Linked DNA regions of Homo sapiens: regions 2, 3 and 4 are each linked to region 1. Evidence: fine-mapped expression QTL. A gene starts in region 1. Each other region holds a variant in brackets. All regions are shown on one strand. Distances are between the middles of the regions.

Region 1 (5,155 bases):
ATATATTGTAAATAAATAAATATTGGAAAAAAAAAAGAAGTAAAACAAAAAAATATTTTATATAGGCTCAGTGTGATAACAAACAAAAGGTCATCTAGGTTTGATAAGTGCCCTTTGCTCTGAAGGGAAGATAAAAATAAATAATAGTGATAAGAGTTAACAAAATAAAACCCAACCTGTCTGGTTGAATGCTAATAATAGTGACTTTACTTCATATAGGCAGCTTCCAGATCAATGTAAAAAAGCTTTACTGAATATTCAGACCAGTGCTATTTACTTAGCTGCTCTCAAATGGGAATAAGCAGACATCAGCTATCAAGTTTCTAGGCTGGAAAAATCCATAAAGGCCACTGGACACAGACACCATGGGGACATCATCCAGACAGTTCATAAAAATAACTTGCCCAACATTTTTGGAACCTGATGCAAGCTATACTTGTGGTTCTGTCTGTTTCCTTTGCTTTATCCAGTAACAACAGAAAAGGAGGCCAGTCACCAGGACTATGATAACTTGGATGTTACAGGAGACAACCAGTACAACATAACACTGCAATTAATAACTCAAGAGCCAATTACTGAGACAGTGCTCTTGTAAGCAATTAACATTTAAGATTCAGTCAGAGGACTAGATGGTAAATGGGTGCTTATCTTAAGCCCAGAGAAAGGAGTTGATTGAGACACAAATATTTGAGCAGGACCATAGCCTCAGATCATTCCATCTGTGTTCACAATAGGGGGAATCCCAATCCTGTGTCACATAAATACATAGAACAAACAACCATAATTTGCTATAGTAGTCAATAAGAATGCATCAATTCATTCAGAAATATTTATTAAACACCTATAACATGCTAAGCATTCTAGGGAATTCAAATATATGTCAGTTATTCCCCAATTTTAAGTAAATTGAAGTCCAGTAATGAAATAAGGTTTGCTCAGCTCATATGTGTTAGTATCATATGAGAGGTATAATTGCTGTAACTATTTGGAGGATGGAGAGATCACTTCCAGTTACTTGATCAGGGAAGGTTCTATAGAGAGGAGGGCACTTGGAAGGGACATACACTTAAAAACAAACTTTTTGTTAAAGCATAACACACACATAAAAGAGAATATATTGCATACAGTACAGGCTCATTGAATTTTCACAATCTGAAAACACTAGATATGTAACCAGCACCCACAGAGAATAGTACAGTATTCCAGAAGCCCCCGACATCCCCTACCAATCACTCTTGGGGGAGTAGGATTTTCTGAGATGAATGTAGACAGACAGAAGATTATTGGGGGAGGGATCAGTATGCATAAAGATGTGGAAGTTGAAAGCCATGACCCATGTTTGGAGAATGGGCTGAAGAGTAATTCGCTTGGGGTGTTGGCTAGAGAACAGGGTCGCGTCCACGTTATACAGCTTTAAATGCAAAGAATTAGATTTTATTCGTTAGCTGCTGAAGGCTTTTGAGCAAGAGGAGTATTTTTGTAAGACTTATTGATGATGGCTGATAATTTATTGGTGATGGGACAATTAAGAGACTGAAGGTTGGGAGACTGGCTGGGAAGCTTCTGTAATAATAGTCCGGGTATGAGGTAATTTTGGCTCTGCAGTGGCAGTGAGAACAGAGTAACTGACCATACACAGACACTTTAAAGAGCCAACAAGAACTAAATGACTGGAGATCTAGAGGAAGGGGGAGGAATCAAAGAAAATTTTCTTCCAAAGATCTAATCAAGATGAAATTTAATAATATTTTTGGGTAGTTAGTTGTTATTTACTTGTTGTATAGGGTTAACACAGTCTTTGAATGCTGCCTCTCCAAGAAATTCTGAAAACTTTCTTACAGTATTTGAAGAAAACCTTGCGTTACTATAAAGAAACTCTAAAGAGAGCAACTGACCTTTCAGACAAAAAAGAGTCCTTTGTTAGTCAGAAAATGTGGACCGTTTGTCTTTTCAAATGGATGCATGCTACGATAAACGTTTTGCTGGGGGGAAAAATGACTCCAAAGAAGACTTTTGAAGATGTCACCCGAACAGCAAATTATTGGGTGCTGAGCACCTTCCTGTTTCTTCATCCTCTTAAATAATTTTTACTAACCCAGATTTCTAGGTAAGATGATTTAACTTCATCGTATACGTTTACATGTAATGTGTTTCTACAGAAAACAAAAAACCTTTTTGAAGAAAAAAGGGCGTAACTTTTTTTGACAACTTAAATCACTGGCTGTGGGAGTCATTTTTAATTGATGGCACCTCTTCTCCTCCCTCCCCGCCCCCATTCCGTCCCTTTGCTTCCAATACGGCGGATTCTTCACTCAACAAATAAACGAGCACGTAACTTGTACTGTAACTTACTATAACGTCTTTCAAGGTCTTTCTTAACTGTACGTTTTTCTGCACAATCAGCACCTTATTTCTTAGAGACTGTTTATTTCTGGAATTTTTGATGCGTGTGGTGGTTTCCAGGCACCAGGATTTGGTAGTAAAACAGGAGACTGAAAAGAAGTTGCTCCTGAAAGCTGTTCTGTGTGCAGGTAACCAAGAGTCATTTCTAAGACCAGACGGAAGGGAAGGAACTTTACTTGGTAAAGAGCGCGTGGGTGGAAAGAGGAGGGGAGTCCGGGAAGATGAGAGGTGGCAAAGGCGGGACCCCGTGCTCTCTCTAGATCTTAAGCTCCGGGTGGGCGGGCGCCGGTGGCCTGGAGCCCGGCCTGCGCGCATCTCCACGCCTCTGGCCGCCCACCTCCTCCGCCCCTTCCCGGGCTAAAGTTCCCAAACTTTTCCTCCAGCTGGGAGAGGAAGGGTGTTACTCAGTTTAAAAGGGAAGTCCCGCCCCATTCCCGCATTCCGATTGGTCGCGGTTTGCCACGCCCCCGCCAGGGCAGCGGGTCAATTGGCTACGGGAGGGGAGCCCCGCCTCAGGCCTGTCGACGTCTGCTGCCCGGGGCCCGCAGGTGGCAGGCAGGTGGGGCTGGTACAGCCCGCGCCGCCTCTGCTGCAGCCGCTGCCGTCTACTCCTTGCGCGCTGGCACTCCGCAGCCTTTAAGGTTCGCGCGGGGGCCAGGCAAGAGTTAGCCATGAAGAGCCTCAAGTCCCGCCTGAGGAGGCAGGACGTGCCCGGCCCCGCGTCGTCTGGCGCCGCCGCCGCCAGCGCGGTGAGTCCCGCGGTCCGGGCTGCGAGGCGCTCCGCTCCGGGAGCAGCGCAGCCCTCCTTTGCTGGCGAGTTCGCGCGCCGCCTTCCTCTGCTTTTCCTCTGCCAGTTCGGCTTCGGCGGCCCTGGCGACTCCTCCCTGAGGCCGGAGACTCCGTCAGCCCAGAGACCCCGGGGATCCTCCCCGCCGCCGCACCCGAGCCTCTACGGGTCTCTTCCCCACCCCTTTCTCCCAAGCCTCCGAACTTCTGGAAGAAACCTCAGTGGGGCGGTTCTGGCCCCCTCCTCCTAAATCCAAAGTTCCTCGATTGGCACCCCTACTCCGCTCTTTCCGTTGACCCCCCCTCGTCGCTCTCCTCTCCCGGCGCTCGCCCTGCTGCCCACGCCCGCTCGGCCGTGTTGGCTCCCCAGTCCCCGGGGCCGGGGCTCGCACCAGGTAGGGCAGGTGGGCAGGGCTGCGCACCCCGCGCCACCGTGCCCGGACTCCGGACCTTCCCCGGGTCTGAGACAGCGTCAAGCCCTGCCGGGCTGGTGGACGTCCCGTGCTGGCCGCTGTCGTTGTCACTGGGAAGTTTGATTCCCCAGCGAGGCAGAGGGAATCGGCTTAGTCGTAAAGACAAAACCCCACAGGGTGGTGACCCTAGAGGTGGTGAAGTTGGGAGGGGTGGTGGTGATGTGGGTTGTGTAAATCGCACCTGTGGGGCGGGATCCGTGCGGGGCTCTTTCGGTGCTGACCTGCAGCGCGGCCTCAGTGTGCGCGCCAAGGAGTAGTCGGGGCCTCTTTAGTTGGCAGGAGAACAGAAATCTTGAGAAACAGCCTGACCGCAGATGTTGTGATTTAGATAATTTGTCACGTTACAAGAATGGCGATATCATCAAAATTCTATATCATTAAAATAAGTGCCACTTACAAAGTCTTGGAAGAGTCGAACGTAAAGGAGTTGTTATGCTCCAACTGCACAGTTACCTAGTTGGGGTAATTAAAATGAACCTTTACAATTCAACGCAGATTTTACCAAATGATTATATTCTTTTTATCAGAATACTAATTAATCTGCTTCTGCTTTTTTGAGTTAATTCAGTTATGCCTTTCTCTCCACCTATATCGAGGATTATTTTACTTGGACATAAAGGAAATTGTGGAGGAACTACCTAGACTTAAATTCCTATTTCAAAAAAAGAGAGTAGATTCAGATGACGTAATTGATGTTCTTTGATAAAGCATGAAGTCGTTTTATAAGCTCATGGAAAACAGAGATTACTTTGTTTCACTTTTTTTTTTAAAAAAAGTAACTGGCAGAAATGTCATTTAGTGATATTGGAGTTCATTACAGTTAAGATTCTACTTCTGTAATGCAAGTTGTGTTTTTAGCCTTATAGAAGATACAAGTTTCTAGATTTATTAGCTTTGTTTTCCCTGGTTGTGTTTGATTTGCACTAAGGATGTAAATCCCACTTGGAGGTTTATATGCCTTAATTTTATCCAGTTTTCTAGAAATGCAGAGTATTTAGTAGGTATTATCAGCATGATAGTTTGCATTTTATACATTTGGAACATAAAGTGCATATCTCTGAGCTTAAATCTTTAGCACTCAATTGAGCGTTCTATTTTTCTCAAAATGACATAATAAAGATAAACATGATATTAACCTATTTATGTAGAAAAAGCAAACATTTCTGTTTAAATATTAGAATAAGTTCTGTACAATTTAAAAATAAAAGCGTAATGAGGAATAAAACTTAGAATGAATTCTGTAAAATTTTAAAATAAAACTGTAGTGATGAATAAAACCAAACCAAGCATTGATAGAATAAAACACATGTACAGGAGAAATAGACCCTTTCTGCTTTTCAATCTATAAACCATAATCCCAGATTTGGTCACATGTATATGTATTTATTGTATGATTGGGCCACCCTTTTTTTTTTTCTTTTTGCCTTTAAAAACAGTTATTTTTTGAATAGGTAATATAGCACATGGTTTAATATTGGAAAGGAATAAAAATA
Region 2 (5,155 bases), 170 kb after region 1:
GTAAAGTATCCAGAGGAACACAACTTCAACCCTAGGCTCAAAGAATCCCCACAGATAAAATTCCAATGAATTTCTGCTCACAGTCAAAAATCAAAAAATAGGCATGAAAAATTACACCATGAGCAAGAGCCAGCAGAAAAAACAGACAGCAGAATTAGTCCAGAAAAGACTTTCATATCAGAATTAATGGATACAGAGTATTAAGGAAGTATGTTTAATACATTTATAGAAATGAAAGAGATACTTGAAAATAAGCGAAGAAAGAGATAAAAGAACATAAGTACTTTGAAAAGGGAAAAAAGAAAATAGAATATCAAAGGAAGAACCAAGATGAATTATAAAAGAACCAAATAAAACTTTCAGGAATAAGAAACAGCAATTGAAATCTAAAATTTGAGTAGATGGGTGATATACTAGAAGCAGCTGAAGAGAGAATTATGAACTAGATGATAGATCCGAAGTAATTACCTAGAATGTATCCCAGAGAGAAAAGACAACAGAAAGTATGAAAGGAAAGTTAAGCAACATGGAAGATGAGTAATCTCTAATCAGAGTTTCAGAAGAGAAGATAGAAAAATCATAGCTGAGAATTCTCCAGAATTGTTGAAAGACAGTAAACTTTAGAACTAGGATGCTCTGAATTTCAAGCAGGATAAGAAATTTACCCCTAGACATATCATTGGAAAAATGCAGAACACCAAAGACAAAGAAAAGATTACAAAAGCAGCCAGAAAAAGATGAATTACCTACAAAACAATTACCCTTGCAAGGGGAATAAAAACCAGAAGATAATAGAAAAATTGTTGAAAGAAAATAACAGTCTAAAATACAGTTTTATACACAATACTGAGTATACAATAGTCAGCAAAAATATCTTTTAAATGGGAGGCCAAAATAAAGTCATTTTTAGACAAAAAAATGAAGAAGTTGAAACCAGCAAATCTTCACTTAAGGAAATTCTAAAATAATATACTTCCTATAGAAGGAATGTGATCTCAGACGTGATCCCAGATCTCAGATATGATATACAAAGAGGAATTAAGAGGCAAGAAATTGGTGAACATGTATGGTCATATCTAAATATGCAATGATTGTATAAAATAAGACATAATGTCTATTTTTTGGCTAAAGGAAAAATAGGATAAAAAGTAGATCCCAGTAACTTGCAAGTTGGGAGGTGTAATCAGAGTTAAGTATTTAAAAATCCATGAATTTTTCAGAAAAGGGGTAAGGATACTAATTAGCTTTAGACACTATTAAACATACTTGTTGAACTTTCTAGGGTAGCTACTATAATAACAGAGGTAAAAAATTGAGTGAGAAAAACAAATCAATCACCCTCCCTCCACCAAAAAAATGACAAGGAAAGAGAAACCAAATAAGAAAAAGAGAAAAAAATGGGACAAATGTGTACAGTACAAAATAAGATAACAAAAATAAATCAAAATATGCCAACAGTCACAATAAATGTAAAGTAACTAAAATTTCTGGTAAAAGACAAGGATTTTTGGAGTTATTTTTTAAATAAGCAAAATTCAGTTTATATGCTTTTTACAAGAGACATAACTAAAATATAAGCATACATAAAAGCTGAATGTAAAAGGCTAGAAAGATATATACCAGGCAAATACTAAGCCAAAGAACATAAATGATGTGGTGATATTAATAGAAGAAAAATAGTATTTAAGGAAAAAAGGATAACTTCAGACTTACAGTTCCATTACATAATGATAGGACATTCTTCACTAGGAAGATGTAACAATTCTAAACCAAAATAAACCTAATAAAAATAACATTAAAATATGTAAAGCAAAAATTGCCAGAACTATAAGAAAAAACTTACAAATTCACAGTCAAAATAGATTTTAATTTTCTTCTCTTATTAATCTGTGCGATTAAAAAATTAACAAAAATTTAGAGTATTTGAACAACACAAAGATGAAGTTTGCCCTAATAGACTTTTACACACAAATAGAGAACACATTCTTTTCTTTTTTGTTTTTTAAGTTCAGGGTACATGTGCAGGTTTGTGTATTTAGTCTGTTTTCATGCTGCTGATAAAGACATACCCAAGACTGGGCAATCTACAAAAGAAAGAGGTTTAATGGGACTTACAGTTTCACATGGCTGGGGAGGCCTCACAATCATGGTGGAAGGCAAGGAGGAGCAAGCTGCATCTTACATGAATAGCAGCAGGCAAAAAGAGAGCTTGTGTAGGGAAACTTCCGTTTTTAAAACCATCAGCTCTCGTGAGACTTATTCACTATCACGAGAACAGAGCAGGAAAGACCCGCCCATATAATTCAATCACCTCACACTGGGTTCCTCCCACAACACATGGGAATTGTGGGAGTTACAATTCAACAAGAGATTTGGTTGGGGACGCAAACCATATCATTCTGCCCCTGGCTTCTCCTAAATCTCAAGTCCTCACATTTCAAAACCAGTCATGCCTTCCCAACAGTCCCCCAGAGTCTTAACTCATTTCAGCATTAATTCAGAAGTCCACAGTCCAATGTCTCATCTGAGACAAGGCAAGTCCCTTCCACCTATGAGCCTGTAAAATCAAAAGCAAATTAGTTACTTCCTAGATACAATGGGAGTACAGGCATTGGGTAAATACAACCATTCCAAATGGGAGAAATCGGCCAAACCAAAGGGACTACAGGCCCCATGCAAGTCCAAAATCCAGCAGGGCAGTCAAATCTTAAAGCTCCAGAATGATCTCCTTTGACTCCATGTCTAACATCCAGGTCATGCTGATGCAAAAGGTGGGTTCCTATGGTCTTGGGCAGCTCCACTCCTGTGGCTTTGCAGGGTAACGCCTCCCTCCTGGCTGCTTTCACAGGCTGGCATTGAGTGTCTGTGGCTTTTTCAAGCCCATGGTGCAGGCTATCAGTGGATCTACCATTCTGGGGTCTGGAGGACGGTGGACCTCTTATCACAGCTCCACTAGGTGGTGCCCCAGTAGGGACTGTGTGTGGGGGCTCCAACCCCACATTTCCCTTCTGTATTGACCTAGCAGAGGTTCTCCATGAGGGCCCTGCCCCTACAGTAAACTTCCACTTGGACATCCAGGCGTTTCTATACATCCTCTGAAATCTAGGTGGAGGTTCCCAAACCTC[A/C]ATTGTTGACTTCTGTGCACCCACAGGCTCAACACCACGTGGAAGCTGCCAAGGCTTGGGACTTGCACCCTCTGAAGCCATGGCCCAAGCTGTACCTTGGATCCTTTTAGTCACAGCTGGAGTGGCTGGGATGCAGGGCACCAAGTCCCTAGGCTGCACACAGCACCAGGACCCTGGGCCCGGCTCATGAAACCATGTTTTCTTTCTAAGCCTCCATGCCTGTGATGGGAGGGGCTGTTGTGAAGACCTCTGACATGCCCTGGAAACATTTTCCCCATTGTTTTGGGGATTAACATTCGGCTCCTCATTACTCATGCAAATTTCTGCAGCAGGCTTGAATTTCTCCTCAGAAAATGGGATTTTCTTTTCTATCACATTGTCAGGCTTCAAATTTTCCAAACTTTTATGCTCTGTTTCCCTTTTAAACTGAATGCTTTTAACAGCACCCAAGTCACTTCTTCAATGCTGACATTTTTTCTGCCAGATACCCTAAATCATCTCTCTGAAGTTCAAAGTTCCACAAATCTCTAGGGCAGGGGCAAAACGCCACCAGTCTCTTTGCTAAAACATAGCAAGAGTCACTTTTACTCCAGTTCCCAACAAGTTCCTCATCTTCATCTGAGACAACCTCAGCCTGGATTTCATTGTCCATATCACTATCAGCATTTTGTTCAAAGCCATTCGATATGTCTCTAGGAAGTTCCAAACTTTCCCACATTTTCCTGTCTTCTTCTGAGCCCTCCAAACTGTTCCAACCTCTGCCTGTTACCCAGTTCCAAAGTCTCTTCCATATTTTTGGGTATGTTTTCAGCAGCGCCCTACTCTACTGGTACCAATTTACTGTATTAGTCTGTTTTCACACTGCTGATAAATACATACCCAAGACTGGGCAACTTAGAAAAGAAAGGTTTAATGGGACTTACAGTTCCACATGGCTGGGGAGGCCTCACAATCATGGCAGAAGGCAAGGAGTAGCAAGTCATATCTTACATGGATGGCAGTAGGCAAAAAGAGAGCCTGTGTAGGGAAACTCCCATTTTTAAAACCAGCAGATCTTGTGAGACTTATTCACTAACACGAGAACAGCTCAGGAAAGACCCGCTCCCATTATTGAATTGCTTCCCATTGGGTTCCTCCCATGACACGTGGAAACTGTGGAAGTTACAATTCAAGATGAGATTTGGGTGGGGACACAGTCAAACCATGTCAGTTTGTTACACAGTTAAACTGGTGTCATGGGAGTTTGTTGTACAGATTATTTTATCATCCAGGTATTAACCTTAGTACCCATTAATTATTTTTCCTGATCCTTTCCCGCCCCCCGCCCTCCACTCTCTGAAAGGGCCCATTGTTCTTTTCAAGCACATGTGGAACATTTATGAAAATTTATCATGAGAAAAGTGATGAAGCAAGCCATAACAATTTCAAAAGGAGTGTTATTATACAGGCCATGTTATTTAACCATAATGCAAGTAAGTTAGAAATCAACAACCACAATGAAAAGAAATTATAAACTCCCATTATTTTGGAAGTTAGAAAAGGGAACACTGAACAACTCACGGGTTAAAAAACTTATAATAGAAATTAGAAAATATTTATAATTGAACATTAATGAAAATATTACACATCAAAACATGATAATACCACCAGAGCAGTATTTACAGGGAAGTTCATAGCATTAAACACTTATATTAGAAATGAAGAAAACCTGAATATTAATGAGGCATACATGAAACTTAATGAGTTAGAATAAAAACAGAAAGTGAAGGAAGGTGATAATAAAGGTAAGTGAAGAAAGAGAAAATAGGCATACAGTCGATATAATAAAAACACTTCAGGCCAGGCGTGGTGGCTCACGACTGTAATCCCAGCACTTTGGGAGGCCGAGGTGGGAGGATCACCTGAGGTCAGAAGTTCGAGGCCATCCTGGCCAACATGGCAAAACCCCGTCTCTACTAAAAATACAAAAACTAGCAGGGTGTGGCAGTGCAGGCCTGTAATCCCAGCTACTCGGGAAGCTGAGGCAGAAT
Region 3 (5,155 bases), 140 kb after region 1:
TTCTTTTTCTTTTTTTTTTTTTTTGAGACAGAGTCTTGCTCTGTCGCCCAGGCTGGAGTTCATCGGCGTGATCTCGGCTCACTGCAACCTCTGCCTCTCGGGTTCAAGCAATTCTCCTGTCTCAGCCTCCTGAGTAGCTGGGACTACAGGCGCCCGTCACCATGCCTGGCTAATTTTTGTATTTTTAGCAGAGATGGGATTTCTCCGTATTGGTCAGGCTGGTCTTGAACCCTTGTCCTCAGGTGATCCATCCATCTGGTTTCTTTTTGATATAATGCTTTCTTTTCCTTTGGGATCACTTCAGGAAGAGAACTGATTGGCATATCTATTGGATTCAAGGGAGCCAGCAGAATAGTTCCCTTATTAATGATGAACCTGATATTTGGGTTTAATAATCTATCAGACTTTGATAATTATACCCACCCAAAAGTATTAGCTTGTGAATTTTTGTTCTTGGAGGAGCATAACAGAACGTGTGCTTCTTTGGGGCAACCTGTTCCAGAGAGAGAGGACAGAAGAAGCTGAAGTGCACATTCCCAGTTCCTCTTTTCTAACTCACCAGTTGGAGTGAGGCCAGAAGTGTTACAAAGAATGGTGCCCCTCCACATAGAATGATAAACGAGTGAGAATAATCTTTCCCTCCTAACAATGACATCGGGGTTTGAGGAAAACTGTAGGACTAGATAGAGCATTGTAGAAGTTCTAGAAAATAGTATATCTAATTGTTGAAAAGGAATGCAGTCCAAAATTAGTTTTTTAGGTTGATAAAACAGAGACTAAGGAATGGAAGAAGAAGAGGAAGAAGTGAGATTTCTCCTTCCTCAGCAATTAATGTCAAAGACATTCTTATAAACTAAATAGGCAATGAAGAACAATTGTGAAAAAGGACCTCAATTTGAGCATCTCTTGGAAATTCTTGTAAAAAGAATGCCTAACTTGATTTTGAAGTTTGTTCTAGGACAGGGAGAAAATATCTTTGGCTCAAACTTCATTTGACTCATGTTTTAAGGAAAGAGCCAATCTATCCCAGGCAGAAAAATTCCACCAAAAGATTTATGACTTAACTTTTATGTTAAACAATTGGTTTTGTCTGACACATGTTTGAAAAGCATATATAGTGACTTCTGATAATGAATGACTTGATCATTTGGATTAATTCTCCCCATTAGCACAATAAGGAAAACCAGACAAAATATTTTTTTAAAAGATCTACATGTAGGCTGTAGTGAGCTGATATGATAAAGAAGCATATTGGAGGATGACAGAAACCCAGAGAGGTAAATTCAAAATTTGGGCTTTTTGGAGCATGTTCTCTGACCAAAATTGAATTAAATGAGAACCAACAACTATGACATCTATGAAAAACGCACATTTTGGAGATTCAACAATACGGTTTTCTATAACCCATAGGTCAAAGAAGAAATTACCCCAAATTAAAAAATATTTTAGGCCAGGCACGGTGGCTCATGCCTGTAATCCCAGCACTTTGGGAGGCCGAGGCGGGTGGATCACCTGAGGTCAGGAGTTCAAGACCAGCCTGGCCAACATGGTGAAACCCCATCTCTACTAAAAATACAAAAATTAGCCAGGCCTGGTGGCACGTGCCTGTAGTCCCAGCTACTCGGGAGGCTGATGCAGGAGAACTGCTTGAATCCAGGAGGCGGAGGTTGCAGTGAGCCGAGATCGTGCCACTGCACTCCAGCCTGGGTGACAGAGTGAGACTGCATCTGAAAATAATAATAATAATAACAATAATAAAAATCTCAGACATTAGGATAATGAAAATAACAACATCTAAATCTGTGAGATTTGGCTAAATCAGTGTTTAGAGGAAAATGATTTACATCCTTTTATTAGGTGTGCTGGCTTACACCTGTAATCCCAGCACTTTGGGGGGCCGAGGCAGGTAGATCACGAGGTCAGGAGATCGAGACCATCCTGGCCAACATGGTGAAACCCCGTCTCTACTAAAAATACAAATTGGCTGGGCGTGGTGGTGTGCGCCTGTAGTCCCAGCTACTCGGGAGGCTGAGGCAAGAGAATTGCTTGAACCCGAGAGGCGGCGGTTGCAGTGAGCCGAGATCGCACCACTGCATTCCAGCCTGGCAACACAGTGAGACTCCATCGCAAAAAAAGAAAAGAAAAAAGTGTTGAAAAATCAATGCCCAAAGAGCTAAGAGAAAACAAACAAACAAAAAAGAGCAATGTAAACCAAAAATAAGTGGAAGGAAAAAACAATAAAGACAAAAGCAAAAATCAGTAGAGAAGAGATCAGGTAATATAAACAATTAACAAGGCCAAAGTTGTTTCCTTGAAAAGATGAATGAAATTGGTAAATCCCTGGTTAGACTGGTCATAGAGGGGAGACAAAGGACCCACACCAGGAATAAATGAAAATTAATTAATTAATACAGATACAGATATTAAAAAGATAGAAGGGCATATTATAAATAGCTGTATACCAACAAATTCAACACTATAGACAAAATTGAAAATATAATTCATGAGAACTGACATAAGATGAAACAGAAACTCTGAGTAGCCTATATCTATTAAATAATTTAATTTTTTTTTTTAAACAACTTCCTGCTTTGGGGGGCTGAGGTGAGATCACTTGAGGCAAGGAGTTTGAGACCAGACTGAGTAACATTGCAAGACCACATCTCTACAAAAATTTAAAAAAATTAGCCAAGCATGGTGGTACACACTTATGGTCCTAGGTACTCAGGAAGTGAGGTGGGAAGATTGAGCCTAAGAGTTCAAGGCTG[C/T]AGTGATCATGCCACTGTACTCCAACCTGGGTGACAGAACAAGACTTTGTCTCTTAAGAACAACAACAACAAAACACACACACACAAAACTCTTCACAAAGAAAATTCCAGCCTCAAATAGCTTTATTGGTAAATTCTATAAAAATTCAAGGATAAAATAAAATAATACCAATTTTACATAAAATCCTTAAGAAAATAAATAAAGTAGGACAATTATTTAATTATCTGAGGTTAGCATAACTCTAATACCAAAATCTGTGAAAGATATTCCAAAGATAAAATAAAATAAAATTTCAGACCAATATTCCTCATGAACATAGACATAAAATTCCTAAAAAAAGTTTTAGCAAATTGAATCCAACAGTATATAAAAAGGATAATATACCATGAGCACATGGGATTTATCCTAGAAATGCAAGGTTGGCTTAATGTTTGAAAATCAATCAATGTAATTCACCATATTAACAACATAAAGAAAGGAGAAAAACAATATGATAATTTTGATAGATGTGGAAAATGCAAGTGAAAACATTTAAAATCCATTAATAATAAAATCTCTCAGTAAAGTAGGAAAAAAGAGATCCTCCTCACATTTCTATAGGTCATCTATATGAAAAACCTGCAATTAACACCATGGTTGATTTGATAGTGAAATAGTGAATGCTTTACCTCTCAGCCTGAGCACAAGGTAAGGATGTAACTCTCACTGCTACTATTTAACATTGTATTAGAGGTTATAGCCATTGCAATAAGACAAGGACAATAAATAAAAGGTATACAGATTGAAAAATAGAAGTAAAACTGCCTGTGTTTGCAGGTAATATGACTGTTTATGTAGAAAACTCCAAGGAATTTATGAAAGAGCTATTAGAAATAAAAAACAAATTTAGCAAACCTGTAGGATACAAGTATAATATACAAAAATTAATAGTTATTTTATACTAGCAGCAAACCAGTGGAAAATATCCTAAAAACATTCATTTAATACAATGTCAAAAACATAAAACTTAGGATTAAATACAAGAGATATGTACAGTAAAAATTCAAGAACTTTGCTGAGAGAAATTAAAGATCTAAATAAATAGGCATATATACCATGTTCATGGATCATAAGACTCAACATTGCTACGATGTCAATTCTCTCCAAAATGGGATGTTTAATATATGAAGCAATGTAAATCCAAGCAAGCTTTCAAACCAGACACTGACAATTGATTTTTAAAATTTGAAATGACAAAGAACCATAAATAACAAATACAATTTTTTTCATTAACTTTTATTTTAAGTTCCAGGGTACATGTGCAGGATGTGCAGGTTCATTACACAGGTAAACATTTTTAAAAGAAGAAAAATGTTGGAGGACTTAAACTCTCTGATTTCAAGACTTACTATCAGCTATAATAAACAAAACAGCATGGTATATAGACATATAGAGCAGTGGAACAGAAGAGAGTTGAGAAGTGAACTCATATATATATATGAGTAATTGCTTTTTGAGAAAGTTGCCAAGATAATTCATTAGATAATGGGTAATCTTTTCAACAACTGATTTATTTATTTATATTATTATTATTATTATTATTATTATTATGCTTTAAGTTCTAGGGTACATGTGCACAACATGCAGATTTGTTACATATGTATACATGTGCCATCTTGGTGTGCTGCACCCAGTAACTCATCATTTACATTAGGTATTTCTCCTAATGTTATCCCTCCACCCTTCCCTCACCCCACAACAGGTCCTGGTGTGTAATGTTCCCCCCGTGTCCAAGTGTTCTCATTGTTCAGTTCCAACCTATGAGTGAGAACATGTGGTGTTTGGTTTTCTGTCCTTGTGATAGTTTGCTCAGAATGATGGTTTCCAGCTTCATCCATGTCCCTACAAAGGACATGCACTCATCCTTTTTTACGGCTGCATAGTATTCCATGGTATATATGTGCCACATTTTCTTAATCCAGTCTATCACTGATGGACATTTGTGTTGGTTCCAAGTCTTTGCTATTGTGAATAATGCTGCAATAAACATACGTGTGCATGTGTCTTTATAGCAGCATGATCTATAATCCTTTGGGTATATACCCAGTAATGGGATGGCTGGGTCAAATGGTATTTCTGGTTGTAGATCCTTGAGGAATCGCCACACTGACTTCCACAGTGGTTGAACTAATTTATACTCCCATCAACAGTGTAAAAGCATTCCTATTTCTCCACATCCTCTCTAGCACCTGTTGTTTCCTGACTTTTTAATGATCACCATTCTAACTGGTGGAGATGGTATCTCATTGTGGTTTTGATTTGCATTTCTCTGATGGGCAGTGATGATGAGCATTTTTTCATGTGTCTGTTGGCTGCATAAATGTCTTCTTGTGAGAAGTATTTGTTC
Region 4 (5,155 bases), 97 kb after region 1:
TATGTACCATAAAACATAGAAATAATAAATATGTTTTGATAAAGTTGATGATATTCATGTGTGGGTAGGTGTTAATGAATGGGGGAAGAAAGACAAAATAGCACCCAGTAGCCATGGCCATTGTCCGTTGTTCTGCCAGAAATAGACTTACGTGAACAGAACTCTCAAAATGTTGTGAATGTATTAAGGAAATCATATCCAGAACTGTTTCCTTACCACAAAAATCAGCATTGTGATTTTTTTTCCATCTTACTGCCTAATCTGAAAACCCTTTGATTCCTGATGATGTGCTAACTTTCTCTAAGTTTGGCAAATAAGTATAGTAAATGTCTCATTTAGGCTTTTGTGATTGATGTCTTTTTTTTTTTCTTTTCAGTGTACTTCCCCAGGTATACCAGCCCATATGCAAAGCAGATCTATGTTAAGACCTCTGGAACTATCTTTACCCAGTCAAACGTCATACTCTGAAAATGAAATTTTAAAGAAAGAGTTAGAAGCAATGCGAACTTTCTGTGAGTCAGCAAAACAAGACCGACTGAAGCTCCAAAATGAACTGGCACACAAAGTGGCAGAATGCAAAGCTTTAGCATTAGAATGTGAAAGGGTCAAGGAGGATTCAGATGAACAGATAAAGCAATTAGAAGATGCATTAAAAGATGTGCAGAAGAGGATGTATGAGTCAGAAGGTAAAGTTAAACAAATGCAGACCCATTTTCTTGCCCTTAAAGAACACTTAACAAGTGAAGCAGCCTCAGGGAATCACAGACTAACCGAGGAACTGAAGGATCAGTTGAAAGACTTGAAAGTAAAATATGAAGGTGCTTCAGCAGAAGTGGGGAAATTAAGAAACCAAATCAAACAAAATGAGATGATAGTAGAAGAGTTTAAGAGGGATGAAGGCAAGCTGATAGAAGAAAATAAGCGATTACAGAAGGAACTTAGTATGTGTGAAATGGAGCGAGAGAAGAAAGGAAGAAAGGTCACAGAGATGGAAGGCCAGGCAAAAGAATTGTCAGCGAAGTTGGCCCTTTCCATTCCAGCTGAAAAATTTGAAAACATGAAGAGCTCATTATCAAATGAAGTGAATGAGAAAGCAAAAAAATTAGTAGAAATGGAAAGAGAACATGAAAAATCACTTAGTGAAATTAGACAGTTAAAGAGAGAACTTGAGAATGTTAAGGCCAAGCTTGCTCAGCACGTCAAACCAGAGGAACATGAACAGGTTAAGAGCAGATTAGAACAGAAATCAGGAGAACTTGGGAAGAAGATCACTGAGTTAACATTGAAAAATCAGACACTACAAAAGGAAATTGAAAAAGTTTATTTGGATAATAAGCTCCTCAAGGAGCAAGCACATAACTTAACAATTGAAATGAAAAATCATTATGTTCCTTTAAAAGTAAGTGAAGACATGAAAAAGTCACATGATGCAATTATTGATGATCTTAATAGAAAGCTTTTAGATGTAACACAAAAATATACAGAAAAGAAGTTGGAAATGGAGAAATTGCTACTGGAAAATGACAGCTTAAGTAAGGATGTAAGCCGCCTAGAAACTGTGTTTGTACCTCCTGAGAAACATGAAAAAGAGATAATAGCTCTGAAATCCAATATTGTTGAACTTAAGAAACAGCTGTCTGAACTTAAGAAAAAATGTGGTGAAGACCAGGAGAAAATACACGCTCTCACATCTGAAAACACTAACTTGAAGAAGATGATGAGTAATCAGTATGTGCCAGTTAAAACCCATGAAGAGGTTAAAATGACACTGAATGACACGTTAGCCAAAACTAACAGAGAATTATTAGATGTGAAGAAAAAATTTGAAGATATAAATCAGGAATTTGTAAAAATAAAAGATAAGAATGAAATATTAAAAAGAAACCTGGAAAACACTCAGAACCAAATAAAAGCTGAGTACATCAGCCTGGCAGAGCACGAGGCAAAGATGAGCTCGCTAAGTCAGAGCATGAGAAAGGTGCAGGATAGTAATGCTGAAATCTTGGCCAACTACAGAAAAGGCCAAGAAGAGATTGTGACACTGCATGCCGAAATTAAAGCCCAGAAGAAGGAGCTCGACACAATACAAGAATGCATTAAGGTAAAATA[C/T]GCCCCAATTGTCAGCTTTGAGGAGTGCGAGAGAAAATTTAAAGCAACAGAGAAAGAACTAAAAGACCAGTTATCAGAGCAGACACAAAAGTATAGTGTCAGTGAAGAAGAAGTCAAGAAAAACAAGCAAGAGAATGACAAGTTAAAGAAGGAGATTTTTACCCTTCAGAAAGATTTGAGAGATAAGACAGTTCTCATTGAGAAGTCTCATGAAATGGAAAGAGCATTAAGCAGAAAAACAGACGAGCTAAACAAACAGTTAAAAGACTTGTCACAGAAATACACGGAAGTAAAGAATGTGAAAGAGAAGCTAGTAGAAGAAAATGCCAAACAGACTTCTGAGATACTTGCAGTGCAAAATCTTTTGCAAAAACAACATGTTCCATTGGAACAGGTTGAGGCTCTGAAAAAATCTCTTAATGGCACAATTGAAAATCTAAAGGAAGAACTGAAGAGTATGCAAAGGTGTTACGAGAAAGAGCAGCAGACAGTGACCAAACTGCATCAATTGTTGGAGAATCAAAAGAACTCTTCTGTACCCCTGGCAGAGCATTTGCAGATTAAAGAAGCATTTGAGAAAGAAGTTGGAATCATAAAAGCCAGCTTGAGAGAAAAGGAAGAAGAAAGCCAAAACAAAATGGAAGAAGTCTCCAAACTTCAGTCGGAGGTTCAGAATACTAAACAAGCATTAAAAAAATTAGAGACTAGAGAGGTAGTTGACTTGTCTAAATATAAAGCAACAAAAAGTGATTTGGAGACACAGATTTCTAGCTTAAATGAAAAATTGGCCAATCTGAATAGAAAGTATGAGGAAGTATGTGAGGAAGTTTTGCATGCCAAAAAGAAGGAAATATCTGCAAAAGATGAGAAGGAATTACTGCATTTCAGCATTGAGCAAGAAATTAAGGATCAGAAGGAACGATGTGATAAGTCCTTAACAACAATCACAGAGTTACAAAGAAGAATACAAGAATCTGCTAAACAAATAGAAGCAAAAGATAATAAGGTAGGTACAAAGTAGTCTGCACGGCTATGTGTTGGAAACCCCAGAGCAGTGCTCTTTACCACAGAATCTCACAGGAAAGTAGACACAGGTATTAACAAAGTGACCCTTTCCAGTTTAGCAACTTGCGTGCAAAAATTCCGAATTGAAAAAAAAAGTGAAGTAACACAAAAGTCAAAAGCATTTTTCCTTCTGTTTCTTTAGCTGTTCTAGCCAAGAATTCAGGAACGATGGGGAGACTTAAGGCTCACTTGTCTCATACATGAAGAGTCAAAAGCCAGTGGGTTTGTGGCATATGAAAGATGGGGAAGAGGGTGGTGGGGAAGCTCTCTTTCTGGGCTGCAAGAAACCAAGAACACTGGGGAGCATCTAGAGTTGATCTCGGTACTCACCCATAGTAGTAAACTGAGCCCTCCAATTCATTTTATGTTCTGTTGCTCATGTCTTTCTACAGACTAGAAAGTCTACATCCCCTCACCCAGAATGTCCTTTCCCTCCTTTCTACTGAGTTGAATCCTATACATTCATTAACATGTTATCCTCCTTCTTAAAGCCCTCACTGTCCAATCTAGTCTATAGTAAACAGTTCCTCCTCTAAGGTGGATGTTTTACTGTGGCTTTGCCATCCATTTAAAACATTTATATTACCTTGTTAGAATTATGTAGTTGATCTTCCCAATCAGTTTTTATGAGCAGGGTTTATAACTTAACTTTCCATCTTAGCTTTAATTCTCATGGTACAATTTACAGAATAGGTACTCAACAATATTTTTGACACTGATGTTGCATAAAGTTTTTACTATGGATATGACATATAAAGATTGGCTGCAGTTTTATCCATTCAACATGTAATGATTAAATGCCTTCTGCATGTCATGTGCTGGGGATACAGTGGAGTAAACACAGACACAGACTGCCCTCCCCAGTGGAAAGTACTTGTACATACTGTCCTCTGGCACACCATCTCTGTGATTGAGAATTTAAATGCTCTAAGCTTGTTCAGAAGGTACCTATGAATATATATAGTAATATATAAGAGTTAATTATTAATATCTACTTGTTGCCATTTATTGAGCGGGTGCATGTAATTGCATTTCATTTTCTTTGTTTTTTTTCTATTATTATTTTTCAATAAAAAATTTTGTGGGGGAGGAGATGGTATCTTGCTCTATTGCCCAGGCTGGTCTTGAATTCCTGAGTTTAAACAATCTTCCTGCCTTAGCCTCCCAAAGTGTTGGGACTATAGGTGTGAGCCACTGTGCCCAACCTGATTTTCTTAACTCTGAAAGATTGTCCACCTTTCACCAATGTGGAATCTAAGGCTCAGAAAAGTAAATTAGCCAAGCTCATACAAGTTGACTCTGTCTGACTTTAAAGCAGGGTGGAAAAATGCTATGTTTCTAGGCACTTCCTATTCCTATAAACAAGCCTCCTTGTTTTTTTTCTCTCTACAACAAAGTGGTCTTAAATAATACAACTCTTGAAAGGAAAAAGGAACATATGTTAATCCTAGACTTACACGGGCCACACCCTTTTACTTTTCACACTTTGTTGCTGGGAATCCCCCTTCCCTTCCTGTGTTCCATATGTTACCTGGAAGATAGTTCATGTGCCTTCGTAGATGCTTATATATTAGCTAAAAGTAAGACTATGTTTATACTCACATCTTAGGATATATGTAATATTTATTCTTAATTTGGTATTGCTTTTGTAAATAATTTCTGGAGAGGGATTTAATTATAAATTACATATTGTATACATCCTTGGTAACAGTCTTGGCAATATTCATACCTCAATTTTCTGGTGTATAAAGATAAAGCTTCTGTCTCCAAAAAGGAATGATTTCTGTACAAAGATGTTCATTGTACATGATAAGTGAATAATATATTTCTCCTACAACATTTTTTTAAAGATAACTGAACTGCTTAATGATGTGGAAAGATTAAAACAGGCACTCAATGGCCTTTCCCAACTCACCTACACAAGTGGGAACCCCACCAAGAGGCAGAGCCAGCTGATTGACACTCTGCAGCACCAAGTGAA

Alleles and levels. Alleles are on the strand shown, and positions count from the first base shown. SD is a standard deviation of normalised expression in the study named. Not every link is listed here.
As copies of C replace A in region 2, the expression in testis of the gene that starts at base 2,924 in region 1 goes down (moderate effect, 0.48 SD a copy in GTEx).

What was found. PIP is the estimated chance that this variant, and not a neighbour inherited with it, causes the effect. A credible set is the group of variants that fine-mapping cannot tell apart.
Region 2: its variant is the best candidate, but not a certain one, in a credible set for the expression of UACA in testis (GTEx, PIP 0.58).
Region 3: its variant is the best candidate, but not a certain one, in a credible set for the expression of UACA in blood mononuclear cells (TOPMed, PIP 0.68).
Region 4: its variant is the best candidate, but not a certain one, in a credible set for the expression of UACA in whole blood (INTERVAL, PIP 0.87).

Annotation. Positions count from the first base shown.
Region 1 is chr15:70,761,327-70,766,481 of GRCh38, reverse strand. UACA (uveal autoantigen with coiled-coil domains and ankyrin repeats) reads left to right here and starts at 2,924. Exons shown (of 19, transcript NM_018003.4): 1 at 2,924-3,152. The coding sequence starts at 3,075. RefSeq lists a silencer at 2,750-3,159.
Region 2 is chr15:70,590,325-70,595,479 of GRCh38, reverse strand. No RefSeq gene overlaps it. Among named protein-coding and RNA genes, the nearest start is that of LINC02204, 6.3 kb to the right of the region's middle. The variant A/C (reference allele first, on the strand shown) is at 3,126.
Region 3 is chr15:70,621,049-70,626,203 of GRCh38, reverse strand. No RefSeq gene overlaps it. Among named protein-coding and RNA genes, the nearest start is that of SALRNA3, 8.1 kb to the right of the region's middle. The variant C/T (reference allele first, on the strand shown) is at 2,769.
Region 4 is chr15:70,664,684-70,669,838 of GRCh38, reverse strand. It overlaps UACA (uveal autoantigen with coiled-coil domains and ankyrin repeats), which reads left to right. Exons shown (of 19, transcript NM_018003.4): 16 at 377-3,115; 17 at 5,025-5,155. Among named protein-coding and RNA genes, the nearest start is that of SALRNA2, 32 kb to the right of the region's middle. The variant C/T (reference allele first, on the strand shown) is at 2,110.